Linked DNA regions of Homo sapiens: regions 2 and 3 are each linked to region 1. Evidence: fine-mapped expression QTL. A gene starts in region 1. Each other region holds a variant in brackets. All regions are shown on one strand. Distances are between the middles of the regions.

Region 1 (2,768 bases):
ATGAGGACACAGACCCACACAGAGGGACGACCCTGTGAAGACACAGGGAGAAGACGGCATCTACAAGGACAGGAGAGAGGCCTCAGGAGGAACCAGCCCTGCCCACACTTTGATCTTGAACTTCCAGCCTCCAGGACTGTGAGAGAATAAGCTGATGTTATCTAAGCCAACCAGTCTGTGGACCTTTGTCACGGCAGCCTGAGAAAATAAATACTTTATATGATTACTTGTATATGAAATTCTAAGAAGAGACACATCCATAGAGACAGAGGGTACATTTGTGGTTAACAGGGCATGGGGATAGGATGGGAAATGGGGGTCTTCTTTGTGGGGGTGACGGTTGTCCAACACTGTGAATGTACCAAATGCCACTGAATTGTTCACTTTAAAATGGTTAAAAGGTGATTTTTTTTTTTTTTTTTAAACAGAGTCTCCCTCTGTCACCCAGGCTGGAGTGCAGTGGTGGGATCATAGCTCACTGCAGCCTCAATCTCCCTTGCTCAGGCAATCCTCCTGCCCCAGCCTCCTGAGTAGCTGAGACCACAGACACACGCCACCATGTCCCAGTAGATTTTTTTTTTTATTATTTTTGTAGAGACGGGGTCTCCCTGTGTTGCCCAGGCTGATCGCAAACTCCTGGGCTCAAGCAATGCTCCCACCTTGGCCTTCCAAAGTGCTGGGATTATAGGCTTGAGCCGCCATGCCTGATCAAAAAAGGCCAATTTTTAAATGTAAATTTTGCCCAACAATGAAAACGCCACCACCAACAGCTAGAATCTAAGGAAACTGGGAGGTTAAGTGGTCTCCTGACATTTTGCAATTTTCCCCAGTGACCTCTGCTATTCCTGCCGATAACATCAGACAATGACTTCTCTCCAGAAACCCTTCTCTGCAACGGCAAAGACGTGAACACTGTGGTAAGGGAGACTCCCACATACAGGGAGGGGGTCAGAGTCCATCTTTACCTCACTGAGTTATTACCGTAGCAGCACAAATCCCCCACTCCAAGGTCATCTGCCATCAGCAGGACAATGTTGGGTCTGGCGTTTCTTGTCATAAATGTGCCATCAACACCGCAAAACAAACAGCACAGGGACACTGACAGCCAGCAGCTCCTGAAAGCATTTTTAGAAATAAGCAAACAAACAAGCAAGCAAAAAACCAGGCACTATCAATTAACATTTGCATTTTAGATAACTTAACATATGAAACAGTGATATTCGTTATCAGTTCTCACTGTACAACGTACCTGTGTTGTCTTACTCAGAAACTAGATTAAACAACAACAACAAAAACTAATGTTCTATACCGGGGTCCCCAATCCCCTGGCCATGGACCAGTACTGGTCCGTAGCCTGTTAGCAACCAGGCCACACAGCAGGAGGTGAGTGGTGGGCAAATGAGTGAAGCTTCATCTGTATTGACAGCCGCTCCCCATTGCTTGCATCACTGCCTGAGCTCCACCTCCTGTCAGATCGGTAGCAGCATTAGATTCTCATAGGAGCGAGAACTCTATTGTGAACTGTGCATGCAAAGGATCTAGGTTGTGTGCTCTTTATGAGAATCTAATGCCTGATGATCTGTCTCTGTCTTCCATCACCCCCAGATGGGATCATCTAGTCACAGGAAAACAAGCTTAGGGCACCCACTGATCATACACTACGATGAGTTGTATAATTATTTCATTATATATTATCGTGTAATAATAATAAAAATAAAGTGCACAATAAATGTAATGTGCTTGAATCATCCTGAAACCATCCTGCACCCCCTTCCTGTCTGTGGAAAAACCGTCTTCCACAAAACCAGACCCTGGTGCCAAAAATGTTGGAGACCATTGTTCTATACGAATATGGCATCATATTTTACCAATTCATTTTGCAAGCATGATGAGGTTTAACTCTTATAACATCTTTTGATATTGTTTTAGTGACATCAGAGGCTTAAAATTTATAACAGGGGTTACAGTTGAGGGTAAGCTCTAAAAATTGAATTTTGCCGGGTGCTGTGACTCATGCCTGTAATCCCAGCACTTTGGAAGGCCAATGCGGGTGGATCATTTGAGCCCAGAAGTTTGAGACTGGCCTGGGCAGCATGGTGAAACCCCATCTCTACAAACAATACAAAAATAGCTGGGCATAGTGATGCATTCCTATAATCCCAGCTACTCAGGAGGCTGAGATGAGAGGATTGCTTGAGCCTGAGAGGTCAGGATTGCAGTGAGCTATGAATGCACCACTGCACTCCAGCTTAGACAATAGAGCAAGACCCTATCTCAAAAAAAACTTTTTTGTTTACTTTATTGAATAAAAATGTAACCAAGGCCGGGCACAGTGGCTCATGCCTGTAATCCCAGTGCTTTGAGAGGCCAAGGCAAGTGGAATACCTGAGGTCAGGAGTTTGAGACCAGCCTGACAAACATGGTGAAACCCCATCTCTACTAAAAATACAAAATTAACCGGGCATGGTGACACGCGCCTGTGGTCCCAGCTACTTCAGAGGCTGAGGCAGGAGAATCACTTGAACCCAGGAGGCGGAGGTTGCAGTGAGCTGAAATTGCACCACTGCACTCCAGCCTGGGTAGCAAGAGTGAGACTCCGTCTCAAAAAAAAAAAAAAAGTAATACCATCTGCTCGGGAGGCTGAAGCAGGGATAATTGCCTGAACCTGAGAGGCGGAGGTTGCAGCGAGCCAAGATCGCGCCACTGCACTGCAGCCTGGGCAACAGAGAGAGACTCTGTCTCAAAAAATAATAATAATTGTTCATATT
Region 2 (2,768 bases), 43 kb before region 1:
CTGAGTAGCTGGGATTACAGGTGCGTGCCACGACGCCCAGCAAATTTTTCTGTATTTTTAGTAGAGACGGGGTTTCACCATGTTGGCCAGCCTGGTCTCGAACTCCTGACCTCAGATGATCCGCCTGCCTTGGCCTCCCAAAGTTCTGGGATTACAGGCTTGAGCCACCATGCCCAGCCTCAATTTTTCTTAAACTTCTCCAATCTGAGGCAAATGAAGAAAACTGGCATGGGGCCCCTTCATGTTGGGGGACCAGTTGGGGCTCCCTGTGGCCCACCCAACCTTTGATCATGTTGTAAAGTCTTTTGTTTTAACTCCATCAATTTTCCTTTTCTTTTATTTCTTAACAATTATCTAAAGATTCCAGCCTGCCCAACATTGTGAAACTTCGTCTCTACTAAAAATACAAAAAAATTAGCTGGGCGTGGTGGCAGGTGCCTGTAATCCCAGCTACTCAGGAGGTTGAGGCAGGAGAATCACTTGAACCTGGGAGGTGGGGTTGCAGTGAGCCAAGATGGCACCATTGCATGTCAGCCTGGGCAACAAGAGCGAAACTCCATCTCAAAAAAAGAAAAATTAATAATAATAACAAAATAATTATCTAAAGATTTCCACCCTTCTGGCATGAGCCCTTTGACTCACTTTTCCCTTCCCTGTTTTTGTTTGTTAATTTATTAATTTTGTTTGTTAATTAGTGAAAGGAAACCAAAATCCCCAAGCCAAGGGGAAAAGGCAAGCTGGGAACTGCATCAGAAAAACCTGCCTCCCATTTTCTCCTAAATAAGACAGCTATGGAGACAAAAACAAACAAACAAACAAACAAAACAAAACAAAAAGCTACATACCTCTTTCATAATTTGCCCACAAAGAAATTTTTTGTGGACCTCAAGATCTTTACCCTAAAACAGTTCTGTTCAATTTCACCTTGGCTTATCTTCACAGGTGTGGGTCAAAGGAGAGACAGAAGTGAAAGTCAGCCCTCTCTGCTCACCTGAGACAAATGCATATCTGATAGATTCCCCTGCCCTATTGTTTACGCAAACTTGCAGATTCACTGAACAGGCATCAGTCACTATTCCTCTACCCACCACCCCCACCCCCCAACCTCCGTCACATGTAAATTGTGTATTCTGATCAAAGACCGAAAAGAATGCAACCTTCTGTGTCTTGTCCATCCATGAGCTGGAATCCCCCACTTTGAGTTATCTCACCTTTTTTGAATGGAAACAATGTACGTCTTACATGTATTGATCGATATCTCATGTCTCCCTAAAATGTAGAAAACCAAGCTGTACGCAGACCACATTGGGCGCATGTTCTCAGGATCTCCTGAAGTCTGCGTCA[C/T]GGGCGGCCATGGTCACTCATATTTGGCTCAGAATAAACCTCTTAAAAAAATTTACAGTTTGTCTCTTCTCGTTGACACCCTAGTCTTTTGGTAGCATCTGTAAGACCCATGAGGGAAAGCTACAACTGCAAATTTGATAAGGTTTCTCAAACCATTGTTTGATTCTGCAAGAGTAATGTCACCTGGGGTGCTCTTGTAGAAGGGGACCCTTGAACCACAACATTTATAGAAATAAACCTTTCCTTTCCAAATTTATGAGCTTCACAGTTCTTCACCTAACATCATTAATACACTGAGAATCTATTGCGAACCCAAAATATCTGAGACAGGTCTCAGTCAATTTAGAAAGTTTATTTTACCAAGGTTGAGAACGTGCACCTGTGACACAGCCTCAGGAAGTCCTGACGACATGTGCCCAAGGTGTTCAGGGCACAGCTTGCTTTTATATATTTTAGGGAGACATGAGACATCAATCAATATGTGTAAGACATACATGGGCTCAGTTCAGTAATTCAGGACAACTTGAAGTGGGAGCTTTCAGATTAGAAGTAGACACGAGACAAAAGGTTACATTCTTTTGAGTCCTTGATCAGCTTTCCACTGAATACACAATTTAGGCTGGCTCCGTGAATCTGTACTTTTACATAAGCAATGAGGCAGAGGAAGTTATCAGATAAGCATTTGTCTCAGGGGAGCCTTGGAAGGATGACTTTGAGTTCCGTCTGTCCTTTGTCCACAAGGAATTTCCTTAAGCACAAATTGTGAGGGGGGTATGTAGCTTCTTATCTTTGTAGCTGTCTTATTTAAGAATCAAATGGGAGGCAGGCTTGCCTGACACAGTTCCCAGCTTGACTTTTCCCTTGGCTTAGTGATTTTGGGGTCCTGAGATTTATTTTCCTTTCACACTATGACCTCGGTGATATAGTTTGACTGTGTCCACACCCAAAGCTCATCTTGAATTGTATCTCCCATAATTCCCATTGTTGTGGGAGGGACCTGGTGGGAGATAATTGAATTCTGGTGGCAGTTTCCTCCATATTATTCTTGTGGTAGTGAATGAGTCTCACGAGATCTGATGGTTTTACAAGGAGAAACTCCTTTCGCTTGGCTCTCTTTCTTTGCCTGCCACCATCCATGTAAGATGTGACTTGTTCCTCCCTGCCCTCCACCATGATCGTGAGGCTTCCCCCACCACGTGGAACTGTAAGTCTAATTACCCCTCTTTCTTTTGTAAATTGCCCAATCTCGGGTATGTCTTTATCAGCAGCATGAAAACGGACTAATACATTGGGTAATGGGCATATTCAGCTGGTGAATATCCCGGTCATCATTAAGCCAATCCCACATGGCTTGCATATGAAGCACATCAGCTGCTTTATCTAGGGTGCTCCACTTGGCATTTTATAGGGAGGGCTGGGCAGTC
Region 3 (2,768 bases), 22 kb before region 1:
CCAGCAGGGGCATTAGGTTCTGGCCGTCAATCACTCTTGGGAGAGAAGGGGGTGTGTAGAAGGTGATGAGAGAGGCATGGTTCAGTCACGCATTTTATAGCAGAAGAAAGAGGAGGAGGAGGAGGAGGAGGAAAAGGAAGGGGAGGAAGAGAAGGAGGCGAAAGATAAAGAGGAAGAATTTCTTTTTTCTTTTTTTTTTTTTTTGAAATGGAGTCTTGCTCTGTCACCCAGGCTGGAGTGCAATGGTGCGATCTCTGCTCACTGCAACCTCCGCCTCCCGGGTTCAAGCAATTCTCCTGCCTCAGCTTCCCAAGTAGCTGGGATTACAGGCACACGCCACCATGCCCTGCTAATTTTTGTATTTTTAGTACAGACGGGGTTTCACCATGTTGGCCAGGCTGGTCTCGAACTCCTGACCTCATGATCCGCCTGCCTCGGCCTCCCAAAGTGCTAGGATTACAGGCGTGAGCCACGGCGCCTGGCGGAAGAAGGAATTCTTAAAACTTTCTCCTTTTCCCTCATTTTATAACAAAAAGAAAGAGAAACAAAACATTCATTTTCTGAGGTCATGGAAGAAGAGAACAGCTAGAACTATTATCCTGATACCTTGCAAGACAATATGAGTTACTGTTGTGGATTGGAAAAATTAAGCTATTTACGCCCTTTTGATTCCAATAAAACTTCACATTTAATGAATAGATATCACCCCACATACATGGAATTAAATCGTTAAAGCACAGGATGTATTTGTTCATTTTAAAGCTCATAGACAAAGCCAGGCCTGGTGGCTCGTGCCTGTAATCCCAGCACTTTGGGAGGCCGAGGTGGGTGGATCACGAGGTCAAGAGATCGAGACCATCCTGGCCAACATGCTGAAACCCCATCTCTACTAAAAATACAAAAATTAGCTGAGCATGGTGGCGCCCGCCTGTAGTCCCAGCTACTCAGGAGGCTGAGGCAGAAGAATCACTTGAACCCGGGACGCAGAGATTGCACTGAGCCGAGATCACACCACTGCATTCCAGCCTGGCTGACAGGACGAGACTCTGTCTCAAAAAAAATAAATTTAAATTAAATTAAAAATAAGCTCATAGACAAAGTGCAAACCAGAAAGAATAATATCATTTAGCACACATGCAATTACACATACGTGTTTTGTTTTCGTTTTTGTTTTTGTTTGAAACAGGGCATCACCCTGTCACCCAGGCTGGAGTGCAGTGACGAGATCTCGGCTCACTGCAATCTCTACCTCCTGGGTTCAAGCGATCCTCCCACCTCAGCCTCCCAGGTAGCTGGGATTACAGGCACGTGCCACCACA[C/T]CAGACTGATTTTTGTATTTTTAGTAGAGATGGGGGTTTCACCATGTTGGCCAGGCTGGTCTCGAACTCCTGACTTCAAGTGATCCGCCAGCCTTGACCTCCCAAAGTGCTAGGATTACAGGCACGAGCCACCGCACCTGCTCTAGGCATACATGTTTTTATTCAGTAATCATTTAACACTTAATTGCATAATGGTCTAGAAGCTGTGAGGGATGTGATGATGTATGAGAATCAGATCCCATCCATGAGAACAGTCAAACACACACAGGCATAAGTGTAATATGACAAAGGATATTAAGGTATACTCTAAGAAGAAAACAAAATATTCCACCACGCACCAAGGGGAGAAAGACATCTGGCCCTATGGGCAGAATATTGATAATTAAGTAATATACTATGTACATACACACACACATAGAATTATCAAGTATATCCACTTATGTTCAAATATATCACCCTAGGTTAGGAGCAAACACTGTTTCCATACCTGTCCTGGGACAAGATCCCTCCGCCTATATAAGACAGCGTCGGATAGATGTCCATTAAGCTGGTGGGCTCATTGATCACTCTCCCAGCCTCCAAGACTGACGGCCACCGGAATATCCCTGGCACACGGATACCTCCTTCCCATCCTCCCATTCCTTTGCCACCTAAAACCAAAGATTACGACACAACCAAAGATGAGTTAAAACCCAACCATATTGGCCGGGCACGGTGGCTCACGCCTGTAATCCCAGCACTTTGGGGGGCCGAGGTGGGCGGATCACTTGAGGTCAGGAGTTCAAGACCAGCCTGGCCAACATGGTGAAACCCCGTCTCTGCTAAAAATACAAAACCATTAGCTGGGCATGGTGGTGGGCGCCTGTAATCCAAGCTACGTGGGAGGCTGAGGCAGGAGAATCGCTTAAACCCAGGAGGCGAAGGTTGTGGTGAGCCGAGATCACGCCACTGCACTCCATGGTGGTGCATGCCTGTAGTCCCACCTACTCGGGAGGCTGAAGTCGGGGGATCAGAGACGAGGAAGTGGAGATTGCAGTGAGCTGAGATTGTGCCACTGCACTCCAGCCTCGGTGACAGGGTGAGACTCTGTCTCCAAAAAATAAAAAAGAAAAAGAAAAAGAAAAGAAAAATACAGGTTTTATCCACATTATAATGATCCTTGAGGAACAAGCTAAAAAACTTTACCCCGTGATTTCCCATATAGAGGAAGAAAGAGAGGAGTGTGAGTAGAAAAATGGCCAGAGGCAGAGTTGAGAATCACTTCTTAGACAAAAGTCCCCTTGGGTGTTTCTGAGCACAAAACAAAAATGAAGCCCTTGCCGTAAGATCAATCATGAGACTGAGGCGGTTGTTACAGAATAGAAAAATGGCCCTATGCCAAATGCCAGTGTCAAGACCATATGTCTAGACTCTTTAAGAAAAAATAGGAACCTCTCTGGAGGAAAAGGT

Which allele goes with the higher level. Alleles are on the strand shown, and positions count from the first base shown. SD is a standard deviation of normalised expression in the study named. Not every link is listed here.
For the expression in minor salivary gland of the gene that starts at base 1,124 in region 1, allele C in region 3 goes with a higher level than allele T (moderate effect, 0.73 SD a copy in GTEx).

What was found. PIP is the estimated chance that this variant, and not a neighbour inherited with it, causes the effect. A credible set is the group of variants that fine-mapping cannot tell apart.
Region 2: its variant is the best candidate, but not a certain one, in a credible set for the expression of ARSH in nasal epithelium (TOPMed, PIP 0.51).
Region 3: its variant is the best candidate, but not a certain one, in a credible set for the expression of ARSH in minor salivary gland (GTEx, PIP 0.82).

Annotation. Positions count from the first base shown.
Region 1 is chrX:3,004,902-3,007,669 of GRCh38, reverse strand. It overlaps ARSH (arylsulfatase family member H), which reads right to left and starts at 1,124. Exons shown (of 9, transcript NM_001011719.2): 1 at 966-1,124. The coding sequence starts at 1,057.
Region 2 is chrX:3,047,673-3,050,440 of GRCh38, reverse strand. All of the region lies in intron 1 of ARSF (arylsulfatase F), which reads right to left. Among named protein-coding and RNA genes, the nearest start is that of ARSF, 7.6 kb to the right of the region's middle. The variant C/T (reference allele first, on the strand shown) is at 1,345.
Region 3 is chrX:3,026,514-3,029,281 of GRCh38, reverse strand. ARSH (arylsulfatase family member H) reads right to left here. Exons shown (of 9, transcript NM_001011719.2): 7 at 1,807-1,969; 8 at 1-35. Among named protein-coding and RNA genes, the nearest start is that of ARSF, 14 kb to the left of the region's middle. The variant C/T (reference allele first, on the strand shown) is at 1,320.